2 separate regions of the Homo sapiens genome follow, and region 2 is linked to region 1. Evidence: fine-mapped expression QTL. Tissue or cell type: whole blood. Region 1 holds a variant in brackets; the other region holds the start of a gene. All regions are shown on one strand. Distances are from middle to middle.

Evidence for each region. PIP is the estimated chance that this variant, and not a neighbour inherited with it, causes the effect.
Region 2: MPEG1 starts here. The variant in region 1 is fine-mapped to the expression of MPEG1 in whole blood (INTERVAL, PIP above 0.99).

Annotation. Positions count from the first base shown.
Region 1 is chr11:59,149,730-59,157,837 of GRCh38, forward strand. It overlaps FAM111A (FAM111 trypsin like peptidase A), which reads left to right. Exons shown (of 6, transcript NM_001312909.2): 6 at 2,021-5,310. The coding sequence ends at 3,775. Among named protein-coding and RNA genes, the nearest start is that of FAM111A, 11 kb to the left of the region's middle. RefSeq lists an enhancer at 2,854-2,983. The variant ATTT/A (reference allele first, on the strand shown) is at 4,140.
Region 2 is chr11:59,209,403-59,217,510 of GRCh38, forward strand. It overlaps MPEG1 (macrophage expressed 1), which reads right to left and starts at 3,525. Exons shown (of 1, transcript NM_001039396.2): 1 at 1-3,525. The coding sequence starts at 3,463. The coding sequence ends at 1,313. It also overlaps the pseudogene RN7SL42P. RefSeq lists an enhancer at 3,502-3,701.

The DNA of each region.
Region 1 (8,108 bases):
TAGGAAGTCAGGAAGGATTCTGACAAATCTTCAATTTGTTTATTGGAGAAGAGGGAGAAAGTGAGTTGTTGCTTAAGGCAGGAATGAAGTGAAGACTTGGAGTTAAGTTTAATGACATGTAGTTGGGCCTTTTTCTACTGATTGGGCTCTGTTATCATATCAAACCATTGTATCTTTCCCTGAGTCTAAAATTCTCCTTGAATTTATCAAGAAAAAAGTTGAGGAATGGTAAACATTTGAGTATGAAGCTTACAATTTCTCAACTTGTTTTGTTTTGTCCTGGTTCTGGAAAACTAGAATATCCAAGTATCTAAAAAGTCTAAGGCAAACTTAGTTATGTTTTTCTCTATCCTATTCCATGACAGAGCTAATTACTATATCCTATTCCTCTTCCCCTTTCAGAAGTGTCTATATCTGCCCAAGAATCATTTTAATAAATAGGAAATTTATTATAGTACTCTAATAGGGTGCATGACAAAGATGTTTCTGACAGCATTAGGCTGAAGGGATGCTCTTTGAGAGTTTATATGTGAGCCCAGGGTAAATCTGCATTACCTTAAGTCCCTTTTATTTATTTATTTTTGATCTGGAATATTAGTATAAAGAAGGAAAACAAATGTTAACATATTATGTGCTAGTCATTGTGCTAGGCATTGTCATACAATGATGCTACACTTAATCTTTACAATATTCCTAGCATTGTTATTCCCAGTAGTAGTAAGGGGCATTGCTGGCATACGGACCCATATCTGCTGGTACCCATGCCATGATGAATATGACTTGGGAAAAATGTGTTTTTTAGACATAGGAAACAGACACTCTAATTTTTCACTGAGTTTCTACTATTTGATTAAGCCTCTTTATTTAATTCCTCTCCCCACCTCCACCCCCGTTTCTTAAGATAATGCGCTACAAAAATGGCAATCATAAATATAAAGTTTACAAAAAAGAATGTATACACTAGTCCAGTGGAAAATATAATTGGACTGGGAATTGCAATTTTGATACTCACTTTATTTATTGGTTATTATGTGACCCTAGAAAAGACGTCTACAAGAAAAACTTTCTGTGCCTTAGTTTCTCCATCAAAAGGATAGATAAGTCATGTTTGTTCCTCCTTATTTTATAAACTTTGGGGATTAGTTGATGTAATAGAGAAAATAGAGTTCTTTTCATGATATATGCTGGGCAAATCAAAGTATTTATTGTTACAAATAACTACATTATAACCAAATGATTAGTTAAATAATGATTTTGTTTAATATGTAATGCTTATAATAAATTGCGGTAGCTTATCGCTGAATTCAGTATTTCAAGAACAATTTTTTTTTGCTGTAATTCATTATTGTCCTCAGGAAATATAAAAATTATATAGCTGAAGATAATAAACAAGTCCTGAAATAAAACTATTTCAAATACTAGTGGACTTTTTTTTTTTGAGATGGAGTTTCACTCTTGTTGCCCAGGCTGGAGTGCAATGGTGCTATCTCCGCTCACTGCAACCTCCACCTCCCAGGTTCAAGCATTTCTCCAGCCTCAGCCTCCCAAGTAGCTGAGATTACAGGCATGTGCCACCACACCCAGCTAATTTTTGTATTTTCAGTAGAGACGGGATTTCACCATGTTGATCATGCTGGTCTCAAACTCCTGACCTCAGGTGATCCACCCGCCTTGGCCTCCCAAAGTGCTGGAATTGCAGGTGGGAGCCACCATGCCCGGCCACTAGTGAACTTTTAAGAATCTCTGTTTTTGAGGCACCTGGGAAAAAATTTTTTCTTCCCTCATATTTTTCAGAAGAATGCACTAGTGTAGTGGTACCAAGAGTTTATCTGACAGAGGTTATAGGAAGCTCCGCTTTCATTTTGGATCCCATGTCAAACACTGATTTAATATTATTCACTGGCCCTTTTAGATTGGTTCTCAGTTTCTCATAGGAATTTTGTGAATTGCATACCTGAAAAGAGAAACAAAAGACTCGGGTTGCATTCAGAGTTTTAAAGTATCTAACATTTATTTTTAGGTCTCTAAAGAGCAACAGAATAATTGCAGTACTTCTCTAATGAGGATGGAGTCTAGAGGAGACCCAAGAGCCACAACTAATACCCAGGCTCAAAGATTCCATTCACCTAAGAAAAATCCAGAAGACCAGACCATGCCCCAAAATAGGACAATATATGTTACCTTGAAGGTAAACCACAGGAGAAACCAAGATATGAAACTTAAGCTCACACATAGTGAGAATAGTAGCTTATATATGGCTCTCAACACTCTCCAGGCTGTCAGAAAAGAGATAGAAACTCACCAAGGCCAAGAAATGCTTGTGCGTGGCACAGAAGGAATCAAAGAGTACATAAACCTTGGAATGCCCCTCAGTTGTTTCCCTGAAGGTGGCCAGGTGGTCATTACATTTTCCCAAAGTAAAAGTAAGCAGAAGGAAGATAACCACATATTTGGCAGGCAGGACAAAGCATCGACTGAATGTGTCAAATTTTACATTCATGCAATTGGAATTGGGAAGTGTAAAAGAAGGATTGTTAAATGTGGGAAGCTTCACAAAAAGGGGCGCAAACTCTGTGTTTATGCTTTCAAAGGAGAAACCATCAAGGATGCACTGTGCAAGGATGGCAGATTTCTTTCCTTTCTGGAGAATGATGATTGGAAACTCATTGAAAACAATGACACCATTTTAGAAAGCACCCAGCCAGTTGATGAATTAGAAGGCAGATACTTTCAGGTTGAGGTTGAGAAAAGAATGGTCCCCAGTGCAGCAGCTTCTCAGAATCCTGAGTCAGAGAAAAGAAACACCTGTGTGTTGAGAGAACAAATCGTGGCTCAGTACCCCAGTTTGAAAAGAGAAAGTGAAAAAATCATTGAAAACTTCAAGAAAAAAATGAAAGTAAAAAATGGGGAAACATTATTTGAATTGCATAGAACAACGTTTGGGAAAGTAACAAAAAATTCTTCTTCGATTAAAGTAGTGAAACTTCTTGTACGTCTCAGTGACTCAGTTGGGTACTTATTCTGGGACAGTGCAACTACGGGTTACGCCACCTGCTTTGTTTTTAAAGGATTGTTCATTTTAACTTGTCGGCATGTAATAGATAGCATTGTGGGAGACGGAATAGAGCCAAGTAAGTGGGCAACCATAATTGGTCAATGTGTAAGGGTGACATTTGGTTATGAAGAGCTAAAAGACAAGGAAACAAACTACTTTTTTGTTGAACCTTGGTTTGAGATACATAATGAAGAGCTTGACTATGCTGTCCTGAAACTGAAGGAAAATGGACAACAAGTACCTATGGAACTATATAATGGAATTACTCCTGTGCCACTTAGTGGGTTGATACATATTATTGGCCATCCATATGGAGAAAAAAAGCAGATTGATGCTTGTGCTGTGATCCCTCAGGGTCAGCGAGCAAAGAAATGTCAGGAACGTGTTCAGTCTAAAAAAGCAGAAAGTCCAGAGTATGTCCATATGTATACTCAAAGAAGTTTCCAGAAAATAGTTCACAACCCTGATGTGATTACCTATGACACTGAATTTTTCTTTGGGGCTTCCGGCTCCCCTGTGTTTGATTCAAAAGGTTCATTGGTGGCCATGCATGCTGCTGGCTTTGCTTATACTTACCAAAATGAGACTCGTAGTATCATTGAGTTTGGCTCTACCATGGAATCCATCCTCCTTGATATTAAGCAAAGACATAAACCATGGTATGAAGAAGTATTTGTAAATCAGCAGGATGTAGAAATGATGAGTGATGAGGACTTGTGAGAATTCAGTCTACTGGATTTAAGGGAATGGCTTATGGAGTTGTTATTTCATAGGCATTGAAAATGGTTTTCTAAACTCCAAAATGGTCATCTTATCAATAATAATAATATTGACCATTTCCTATCTGCCAGGCATTTTTCTAAGCACATGAAGAAATTAGTCCTAACAACACTATGAGATGGACTATAACTTGCCCAAATTTTTTTTTTTTTTTTGAGACTGAGTCTCACTCTGTCGCCTGGGCTGGAGTACAGTGGTGCGATCTCAGCTCACTGCAACTTCCACCTCCCAGGTTCAAGCGATTCTTATGCCTCAGTCTCCTGAGCAGCTGGGATTACAGGCAAACGCCACCACACCCAGCTAA[ATTT/A]TTTTTTTTTTTTTTGTATTTTTAGTAGAGACAGGGTTTCACCATGTTGGTCAGGCGGGTCTCGAACTCCTGACCTCGTGATCCACCTGCCTCGGCCTTCCAAAGTGCTGGGATTACAAGTTTGAGCCACTGCACCTGGCTAACTTGCCCTATTTTAAAGTCAAGCAATGGGAAGAATAACAAGATTATATAGTAATCAGTTTCATGACACTAAAAGTCATATAGTCATAGGGTTTTTTCATCTTTCATATCTTTGCCTAAATTCATTTGCTACAGTGCAGGAACCAAAACTTGTTCATCTCATGATTCCCTACATCTGACATAAGGAAAGTAAGTGCTCAGAAAAATGTGCAGGTCAATAAGTTGCAAAAGTTGGGGCTGCAATTAATGCTAACATAAGAGCTAAATGCTTGATTAGAAATGATCTCAAAACCTTTTAGAATTTCCAAAATCTTCATATTACTGAAACTGTCGGAATATATGGGTCTTGAAATTCAGAAGATGATAGTCACTCTTCCCATATTTATAGGCTATTAAGGCAAGGGATATCTTAAACATCATATTACTTTATTTAGATTTCTACTACTCCAATTATTAATGTTATGTATTTCTCATTGTTTTACTTCTTCATGGTATTATGAAGACTATATAGATGATTCAACCAAGCCTGCAAATCTCCCTCTTGTGGAATTCCACTGGACCCAATCTGTTTTCCATTTCCATTGCAATACTACTAAAGCCATACAATATCAAGCACCCTCCCTCTAGGTCCAGGGACTATCACAGAAGAAGCAGGCATGTAAGATTTTAAGGACTGGTTTCGAGGGGTCGAGTGTAGGAAAACAGCCTGTTGCATTGTAAGAGTGATGTCATCTTGAAGAGCAGCTGGCATGATGACTGCTGTTTGACTCCTGCATACCAAGATATTCTGCAGCAATGTCTTTAAACAGTGCCGGTAGTACAGATAACCCCTCATAAAGATGCTTATCTAACCTCCCCAGTGTTCAGGTGTTTCACAAGAAAGTCTGAGATATGACTAGCTACACGTTTTGCCAAAAATGCTTGTTATATAAAGGGTACTTTTGGGAGGGTGAGTGCCGCCATTTAGTGGCTGCTAGAAACATTGCTTCTGTTTGTAAGTTCCTATTAAATGTTTCTTTCTGAGAAACCGTATTTGTCAGCCTCTTTCTTTGGCCTCTCAGCTTCTTTGGTCTTTGGGGGTAGGTTGGGGTAGGTTTGCATTGACCTGCTCACCGTGAAACACCTGGTGACTTTTAATGAAGAATGGCATTAGAAACCAAGATCTAGGCACTAGATATGCTCATTGCTGGTGGCGTGTTGTTTCTTTTAGGCCCCCTCAGCTGACAGGGCAAAGAAATATTTGTGTGTATATTTACCCACATATGTATATGTACACATATGTATATATGCCTTGCTTATCTGTAAATTCCAACTCCAAACAGTTGGAAGCGTGATGCCTGCCATCCCTCACACATTCACTTAATTGCTTAATCCAAGTATACATATATAGCAGTGTCAGAATTGTTAACCTCTACCTCAATGGGAAATAATTTTATCAACTAGAATACAGTGCCTATGTGCAATTTCCCTGCTTTTAGTCTTATATATTCCATTCATTCCCAAAGTTATTTCAGTCACCCTGTTGTTTCTTACCTCCTTCAGTGACGTTTTATATGCTTATAGTACAGTTATACATAATATAATAGTTAGATTTTCTTGTCACAGTTTGAATTCTTTCCTTTGACCCCTTGACCTCCTAAATGATATTTTAATGTGTATTCATTGATTCACTCTGTGCTGTAAAGTTCTATGGGTTTTATCATACAGAATAGTTATATCACCCTAGAAATCTGTGCTTCACCTATGTATCCCTCATATCCCTCCCCTCTCCCCTGAACCCCAGCAAAAAAAAAAAAAAATCACTGATCTTTTTACTATCTTTATGGTTTTGCATCTTCTAGAATGCTATATAATCAGATTCTGTTTATATAGTTAGTACATTTTCCACATTTTTCTTTTTTGTTGTTGGTGGTGATTTTTCTGCTTAAGTGCTTAAATGGGTCCCATGCATAAAACTGAGGTTCTGTCGAGTGTTCCCTACCAAAAGATGGCTGCAATATGCCTTATAAAGAAAACATATGTATTAGATAAGCTTTTCAGACAGGAGTTATGGCATTTTGGGCTGTGAGTTCAATGTTAAGGAATCAACAATATATATTAAATAAGCTGTATTTTTAACAGAAACACACATAAAGCAAGTTTATTTACTGACTTTGATGAAAATGTTGTGACCAGAAGATAATATGAATTTAACACTGTGTTACTCCTAAAGGCAATGCTTCAGTATTTGCTAATTCAATATTTGCAGCATCTTTATAGACCATAACTACCACAAATAATGAGAACTGACTGTATCATTTCAAATATGGTTTCAAGTCTAATGCCTGCCTAATCGTCACAGAGACTTAAACTTACGTGGCTTTACTGTTTATTAAATAATTTCTGACATATTATCTCAATACACATTAGAGCAGATATTATTATACCTGTTGCCTGTGTGAGAAGGAAGTATAACTGAATTTTTACCCAAATTGGTGATATCTTGGAAAAGACTGGGACTTATATCTTGAAATATAGCTTATTGTTCTTTCTCCTAAGAGCTAGTTCATCAGATCCAGACACTACTATGGCCATTCCTGCATCTAAAGTACACCCACCTTGGATCACTTAAGAAATATAAGCATTTCAGAATGCAGCAAATACCTTTCTCTGATTTTCTCTTGTCCTAGCTCTCAAGACCAGGTAGCTAGAAAATTCAGCTTAGGTCTGGATTTATCACCACTCACTCATCCAATTCCTGGTTACAGAGCTAACCCACTATCACATTCTACTCCAGATCTCTCTTTGAAATGGGATAATGGATTAAACAAGGTTGTAGTGGGTTTAACTGTGCCTGCCCCTAAGGGCAGGCACTATCCTCACCCTATATACCTATAAATGTGACCTTATTTAGACAAAAATGCTTTGTAGATGTAATTAAATTAAGATTCAAGAGATGAGATCATCCTGCACTTACTGGGTGAGCCCTAAATCCAGTAACGAGCATCCTTATAAGTAAAGAAGAAACACAGAGGAGAAACCGAGAAAGAAAGGCCATGTGAAGATGGAGACAGAAATTGGAGAGATACATCTACAAGCCAGGGGTTGCCAGGGATTGCCAGAGGCCACTAAAAGCTAGGAGAGAGGCATGGACAGGTTCTCCTCAAAACCTCCAGAAGGAACCAACCCTGATAACATCTTAATTTCAGACTTCTGGTCTCCAGAAATAAGAGAGTAGATTTCTGTAGTTTCAAGCCACCAAGTTTGGGGTAATTTGTTATGAACTGGGTGGCTTAAAACAATTTAGTCTCTCACAGTCATGAGAGGACAGAAATGTATAACCTGAAGTCAAGGTGTTGGCAGGGCTGTACTTTCTCCAGAAGGTGCAGTGGGGGTAAGGGCGAGTGAATTAAGGGTCCCCCACTGACCTACCTGCTAATGAGTCTGAGTGGCCAGAGGTAGAATTGAAATAAGCCACCCAAATGATTCTTTGGTTGTCACTCATGTGACTCAGTCTCCTCTGGGCAGGAACAGGAAGGGATGCTCTCATGACAATGGAGCAGCAAGCCCCACAGCCCAGCAGAAAAGCAACGTGGTTGTGGCTACTGAGTGAAGAATCCCTGAAGTTGAAATACATGGTGTCAGCAATAAGGACCTTGCTATTTGATATATAGCTTCGGGCGAACAAAACATTTGAAATTTATTTGATTGAATACAAACTAGTCATTCAAAACTAAAAATACATGTAGCCAATTTCCTTCCCCTTTGCCCCCCTTTAACCCATCCCTTCCCTTCTGCCTCAACCTCAGCTGCTTTTAGAGAAAGATAATTAGAATGCAACTGAGA
Region 2 (8,108 bases), 60 kb after region 1:
TGAAAGTAGTGGAGGTAATTACAATCAGGAGAGATTGGTATTAAAATTGAGCAAAGTCCCAACTCTCACCAGATGACAATTATGCATCCTGCTAGATGCCCCAGGGCTGTCAGCCTGGAACTGAAATAAATGTGTTATAAGTGGTGCTGGATGCCTTTTTCAGTTCATTTGAAAACATGGATTTGATCATGTCAGCTCCCTTTCTGCTGGAAAAAAAAGTAGTTTGCATAATTGGTGTTAACTACTCTGTTTTGATTCTACAGAGTAAGTAATACTCAAATGTGGTCTTACTTTAACTTCTTGCCTTTGTTACCCCCAGAACCATGCAGACATTGAAATGTGGTGTGCGTGTGTGTGTGTGTGTGTGTGTGTGTGTGTGTTCATATAACAGGAGGACAGGAAAGGTAAGGACCCAGAACAATGAAGACTTATTGAAATGTGGTATGTGTGTGCGTGTGTGTGTGTGTGTGTGTGTGTGTGTGTGTGTGTGTTCATATAACAGGAGGACAGGAAAGGTAATGACCATCCATGGAAGATGAAGGGGTAGTACTTAGCACCAGAATCTTTTCCAGTTTTTACCCATCTTTCATTACTCCTTGTCTCCAAATCATCCCTTCCTTAATAACTTAAAATAACTTAAAATATTTTCTGAGGACTTGATGACACCAGTCAGAAGTCCAAGAGTGGTCTGGTATAAGGGAGTGTTCATCAAGGGGCAGCTGGAAAAAGTGGAATTGGCACAGGCAACATCTTTCTTTTCAGATGTTTGAGGTCACCCAGAGGAGATAACAGTCTGTCAACATAGAGCCCTCAAAGTTAAAAAGCAGTAGCCAGGCAAGACTTGTGTCTTTTCAGGGCTCTTCCAGGCTCTAAGAGTGTGAAATTCAGACAGGTTTTTAAAAATCAAAATAAAAGGAGAGTAGTTCTTACAGGCAGAAACTCTTAGAGCTCACAAATTGGAAACAACTGCAAACTTCAGAGTAAATTCATAGCTTCCAAATACAAATGTTCACATTGTCCCTCCGCTATTTTTACACAAATGCATTCAGGTGAAGACAGCAACACACATTGGGAAAGGACATCTGCTTCCTATTTTAGTCCCAGAATCACTTTTGCTTCTAGTCCCAACTGTTCCCTCTCCCCAATCCCAACCTTATCCATGTAACAGTATGAATTTCCTGGCCCAGAGACCTAAACAAGAAGTCACGAATATACCTACTTTTGGTTGCACTTGCCATTTCAATGCTTAGGAAAACAGAGTGGTCAGCAATGACCACACTGGAGATGAGAGAAACCATTTTCGGGGAGAGATTTAAGCTGGACTCTGCCCCTGCTCTTGGTAAGTGGTGTCTCCAGTTGCTGCAGTGCCTGGAACCAAACTCTGCCTTTCCTCAATTGCCTGATATGCTTTCTTCTTGAACTTCCGGGTGCCGTAGATGGCCAAGGTGATAACAACAGCCAGAATGGTGGTGACCCCCACTGTGACCCCAGCTGCAGCCCCTCCTGACAGACCACCACCATCCCCATGGATGACATTCATGGCCCTCCGCAGCTCTATCGGTTCTCCCAGCCTCCACTGGTGGGTCTGGGAGTCTTTAATCCAGGATCTCGCATTCTCAGAATTGGTCACTATGACAGTATTGGTGGCAGCCTGACTCATGAGGGGTGGCCGGGTGAAAGGTGGGAGCCTGGCAGGGGGCAGGGACCCTCCTGTGAAGAGCCCGGATTTGACGCAATAGGACACTTGGCATCCATCGCTGATGAGGGCTGGGTGCTGGCTGAAGCCCCCGGGGCACTTTTTCAGAGACGGTGCCCCTAAATCTCTGGATATAGCAGGATCTACCAGGGGGTTCCCAACTGTGCAGCTAAAGAACCCGCCAAAGGGGACCGCAAACCTGCTTCCCAACTCATAGTCCTGAGAAACACATACCTTGAGGTTTTCAAAGAGTCTCAGTGGAAAGTAGCCGGCTGGGCATGACTGTGCATTTGTCATGGGGTTTATGCTCTTGCTGCTGAAGAGGCCCCCAAAAAGCAGTCCTGAGTTTTCAGGTACTTGGCTGCTGGCCACACACCAAAAAGCCCTAAATTCAGCTTTTGCCACCTGGAACACATCTTCACACACGGTCTTGCAGAAGACGAGGAGAGTGCACTTTCGATGACACTCCAGGTGGTTGTAACCCTCCTCGTGGATCTGGGATAACAGGTGCACCGGGGAGTAGCCAGAGGGGCAGGAGAAATCACCAGTGAGTGGATTCTTCTGCTCCAACTTTTGGCAGAGGAGGACATCCCTATTCCCTGAGAGCTGAGTGCATTCCTGATAAACCCCACCGAAAGAGAAGTTGGTCATTTTCCCCTCGCAGGAGCCATCATCCGTGTTGGCCTGAAAATTGAAGTTGGGAGAATTGAGATCTGTGCAGCCAGGGTAGGTGTTGAATGTATAATAGCGCTTCACAGCAGTTTCCACTGTCTTTGACACCTTCTTCACCAGGGGGCCTGGCAAGTCAGGTAGCATGTTGGGGTTGATGAAGAAATGCAGCGGCAGGCCAGAGCGGTCGATGGCCACCAGGTGGTTGGTGATACCCTGCTGCCAGGCCTGGAGGGTGATGCCTGGGTAAAAAGGAACCCCTCCAATGCTCTGCACCCTGGAGTTGGTTCGGTTTGAGAGGTAGCTCTTGGTGAGGACATTCTGCGAGGTATAGTTTTCCTCAAATTTGAAGTTCACGGTGTTTTGAAAGGCAAGTCCAGCAGAGGCGGTCACGGCACTACGACTGCTCTGGCTGTCTTGGAGGAAGGAGGCCCTGAGGTGGTCCTCCTGAATAAGAGCAGCCCCAGCGTCGACACTGGTGGTGACGTGGGTGCCATAGTTGAGCACCAGGAGTTCTGCCAGGTAGGTGGCCATCCTCGTCTGGTTGTTCTCTAGACGGTCAGAGATGTCAAGGAGTTCCTTCCTAAAACCTGAGCTTAGCTCTAAAGTTGGGTTGATTTTGACTGTGTAGACGAGGTTTCTTACCTGAACTCGGGTAGTTATAGCTTGGTCCTTCACTTGGAGGGTCTTCATCCTCTGGAACTCAGTGGAAAACTTGCCATTGACTTTGGAAAAAAGAGAGAGTTCTGTGTTGATGGAGTAGGAGGTGCTACTCTGGTAATTTGCCCAGGATTCCAGGATTTCTGAGTTCATCTCCAGGTTGCTCTGTTTCTGGGGAATGGTGAAGATTTCATCAGGGATGATATACTGTCCATCCTCTGTTGTCCTGCAGTTGGAGTAAGTCAATTCCATAACTCGTCCCATGTCCACATTCCGCAGATTGTCCCAGCCCCCTCCAGGTAGGACTTCCAGGACAGGTAGTTTCAAGGCATTCTTGCATTTTTGAACTCCAACTTCGTCCATCTCTCCCGAAGGCTTGCCTGATTTAGCCCATGCTGCCGCTGCCCAGAAGAGGATGGTGGCCCTGAAGTTGTTCATGGCTCAGACAGCCCCAGCCACTCACCAGCCCTACACAGCGGCCAGCAAGCTTTGGGCAAACTAAGATGGAGAAAACAGAAGCAGATGATGAAGCGGAAAACTCATGAGTTCTCTAAAAGCTACAAGTTCCTCTTTAAGCTAATTTAATGACAAAATGGGGAAACGAGAGTTGGTTGGAATATTAAAGACCATCAGGTCTTTGAAGAATTTATGCCGTACTAAACATGCAAACACACCCCTACATGCCTAACAGGTAGCTATCCTAATTTTTCCCCCAGCTCTGGCTGGTTACTCTGCTGCAGGGGTGTGCACTTAGAAAAAAATCCCGACCCCACACCCTACTGCTTCCTCCACCAGAAAGTTTGGCTTTGCTTTTTGCTCATTCTCTTGGACTTGATGTTTCATATTTTCCCTGACTGCTGTCTCTTGGGACTCCATTATCAGTTTTCTTTTACTATAAATGCAGAGGCAAATGACCACACCACCCTTACTGAAACACCCTGGCTCCACCATACCTATGCAAGCTGTTAGTCAAGGCCAACCCTGGGTTTCCTCTTTGCCTGAGGGTGGAGGCTGTTTCCACAAAAGAAAGGAGTGAAACTCTTGGACACTTGTCCTGTGGGTTTCACTGTTATGAACCATAGCAATTCTGTCTTTGGGGATGGCATTGTCTGGAGCACAGCTGACAGGGCCTGAAGAGGATTCGGTTGCAATATGCTGGGAAACCCCAATTTGCATTGTCCTAAGCATTCAAAGCGAGGGCAAGGAACTCCTACACTGTGTTGTTTTCATTCAGATAGAAATGTTCAAGACAAAACCACACTATTATCTAGATTTTGATTTATCAACAGCAGACAGGGGCCAAGGAACATATGTGTATGTGTACACACATTTATATATCCTCTGTGTGTGTGCATTTTGTATGAAGTTGGTACCTGTTATACCTTTAATTTTTTGTTCCATTGCTAAGTGTGTGTAATCAGTTTAGGTGGATAAAAAAGAATGTGGCTCTTCACTACCCAATATTTTTTCTAAAAGCAAAAATTCATTTGCTATATCATTAGAAGAATATAATTACATGAGTTTCTTTTCAAGTTCCAATGCCAGCTCTATTAGAGCCCATAATTTAAAACAATGGTGACAGGTTTGATTGAAACCCAACTCTGTTAATTCTTTGGGACAATTAGGCTATGTCTTAGTATGCTTAGTGGTAGCCAGGGAATCCAGAGGACTTAGTGAAGCTCCCAGTTGCATCCTTAACATTCCCAAGATTATACCATGAACTAGATACAGTACTGAGACTGAAAAAGTCATGTTGCAATTCACAGGTATCACTACACCATCACCTGTATGCATCCTGGAAGGAAGGTTCCAAGGAGTTGAATTCCTCTGTTGGTTATTAATGCAGCAAAGAAGTGTTTTTAGAAAGAATGAGGCTAGTTATCTTGCTTCCCAGGCTGGGCTTCACCAGTTATTATCAAAACCATGATGGTGTTCTATAAATCTAGAAATACTGCATTCCGGGTATATTTTTTTTTCCAAGACAGGGTCTTGCTTATTGCCCAGGCTTGAGTGCAGTAGCTATTCACAGGCATGGTCCCACTACTAATCAGCATAGGAGTTTTGACCTGCTCCATTTCCAACCTGGACCCGTTTAGCCCTCCTTAGGCAACCTGGTGATTTGCTCCAAGGAGGCCACCATATTGATGCTGAGCTTAGTGCAGACACCCAACTGGCATAGCACACTACAGCCCAGAACTCATGGATTCAAGCAATCCTCCCACATCAGCTTCCCAGGAATCTGGGACTGCAGTCATGCACCACCACACCTGGCCATTCTGGTTCTATTTGTGCCACAGTTATCATGCTTCTGGGAAGTGACACCAGCCACCTAAGAGGGATTAATTTATGAACCAGTGCCTAGTCTGTATTTGGCTAAAGAACCAAATCTTTGCACAGGATGTTCTAGTTAATTTATAAATCAGTTAGCCATAAATTTATACCTCAGCAGCATGATCCCAGAATTAGAAAAATGAGAGTTGAATGCCCTTGAGTACTTCCAATAAGTCTGTTGAAATACCTACATACTTCTCTTCAAACTATTTCTGGGATGGTTCATCAAAATTAGAATACTCTCACACTGCTTTGGAGACAAGCTGACAATTTGTTACCCTCTGCTTTCTCTTTAGTAGACCCTGTTGAGAGCTCACTCTCCTGAAATGAGAATACAAGCAAGGTTAATACAGACAATTCTATATTCAGGTGTTCCTATGTCTCCAGACGTCTAGTCACTGTATTTTTTATTCTATAGACTTTGTCTTCATTTTATCATAGGAAAAAAAAATTGAAAATAGCAGAAAGAGCCAACAACGGTAAAATTACATTGTACCCATAAGACAAAATATTGTATAGCCATCACAATTATTTAAAACTATTTTAATAACATGAGAAATTCTTATGCCATAATGTTACTGGAAAGGGTTCCCAATGCAGACCTCAAGAGAGAGTTCTTGGACTTTGTGCAAGAAGGACCAGGGCAAGTCCACAGAGTAAGGTGAAAGTAAGTTTATTAGAGAAGTAAAGAAACAAAAGAATGGCTACTCCATAGGCAGAGCAGAAGTATGTGCTGCTTGATTAAGGATACTTATCATTATTTCTTAATTATATGCTAAACAAGGGGTGGATTAATCATGAGTTTTCTGGGAAAGAGGTGGGCAATTCCCAGAACTAAGGGTTCCTCTCCTTTTTAGACTATACAGGGTAACTTCTGGAAATTGGCAGTCATGGCACTGGTGGAAACATCTTTTAGCATGCGAATGCACTACAATTAGTGTATAATGAACAATGAGGATGACCAGAGTTCACTCTTGTCGCCATCTTAGTTTTGGTGGGTTTTGGCTGCCTTCTTTACTGCATGCTCTTTTATCAGAAAGATCTTTGTGATCTGTATCTGTATCTTATGCCAATCTTCTATCTCATCCCATGACTTAGAATACTTAACCCTCTGGGAATGCAGCCCAGCCTTCTTTTACCCAGCCCCTATTCGAGATGGAGTTATTCTGGTTCAAATATCTCTGACAATAATGTTATGAAAAAAAAGAATGATAAACATTCAGCATGACCCCAACTATGTACATAACTAGAGGGATGTACGCCAATGCATAGACAGTAATTACATCTGGTTGAGAGGTTTTTCTAAATTATTTTAATTTTTTCCTCTTTTCTGTGTTTTTTGAGTTTTCAACAATGAGCATGTATTTATTAACTCGAGAAATTTGTATTCAGAGCCTATTAAGTACCAAACACTGATGGGTATTGGGTAATCATCACTTTTGTGCTCAGGAAAATAACCAATGCACAACCATGTAAAAAAAAAACAAAAGAAACAGGCCAGGCAGGGTGGCTCATGCCTGTAATCCCAGCACTTTGGGAATCCGAGGTGGATGGATCACTTGAGGCCGGGAGTTCAAGACCAGCCTGGCCAACATGGAGAAACCACATCTCTACTAAAAATACAAAAAAATTAGCCAGATGTAGTGGTGACACACAACTGTAATCCCAGCTACTTGGGAGGCTGAGGCAGGAGAATTGCTTGAACCCAAGAGTTCGAGGCTGCAGTGAGCCGAGATCGTGCCACTGCACTCCAGCCTGCGAGACAGAGTGAGACTGTCAAAAACACAAACAAACAAACAAACAAAAAAACTTAGTTCTGGAATTTTTATATTCCTGAAATGACCCAAAGCCTATGGATTATGTGACTGCTGTGCTCAAGGAAGTTCTCTTTCCAGTTCTCTGGGAAACAGTGAAAGGAGAAGTGCAAATGATGGGAAATTTGGCTTAACTTAATTTTACATACCAGGAGCAGAAGAACTGCTCATAACAGTCACATATGAGGAAGTGGTGACCAGTGCATTTTACCCACAACTTTTCTGTTTTATTCTGTTCACCAGAAATTTCCTTTGCTTTTTCTTGTACTGGAATGCATATGCAGTCACATAACCTCCCCAGATGGCCACACTTGAGGAGTAATGGCCTGTGGCTAACACTGATCTCTAAAAGAAAGAGGCATCTTGTCTACAAAAACTTTGCATCTGCGTTGCTGAACGGCGATTTCACTTCCTCCAAAAAGAGGCAAGAAGGAAGTCCCACATCTGCTTTCTTTCTCTGTTTGATCCCGTGCAACCTTCTGACACCATCTCATTCAGCGCCAAACCGTGATTCATATCTGAGGTTCGCTTCTGTGTGGGCTTGGAACTAATCCAGGTGTTTCCTACTTCTGCATTTCACCTGTGGTCTAAAATGGGGAGGAAAGTCTAGTTGCATTTGCTGGGACAATTCCCTTTCAGCAGGAATCTAGGAAACCAGTGTGAAAACTGATGGTTAAATAATTACTAAGTAGATCAGAGAACTATGGCTTTTAAAGACTTTGCAGTAAACTTTGTTATGGAAAATCTGGAAAGTATCAGTGAACAAAGTGGCAGTATTTTCCTTTCTGAACAGTTGATTCCTAGCCTGACGTTTTAAGAGTTGCGTTGTCAGCTTCTTCCCCTCAGAGGCTCTTCTTTCCACCAGGATCATTTGGTGATCTGACCACAAAACTAAGAACATAGTGATTTCATGACTCCTTTTAATCTGGAGGGTGAAA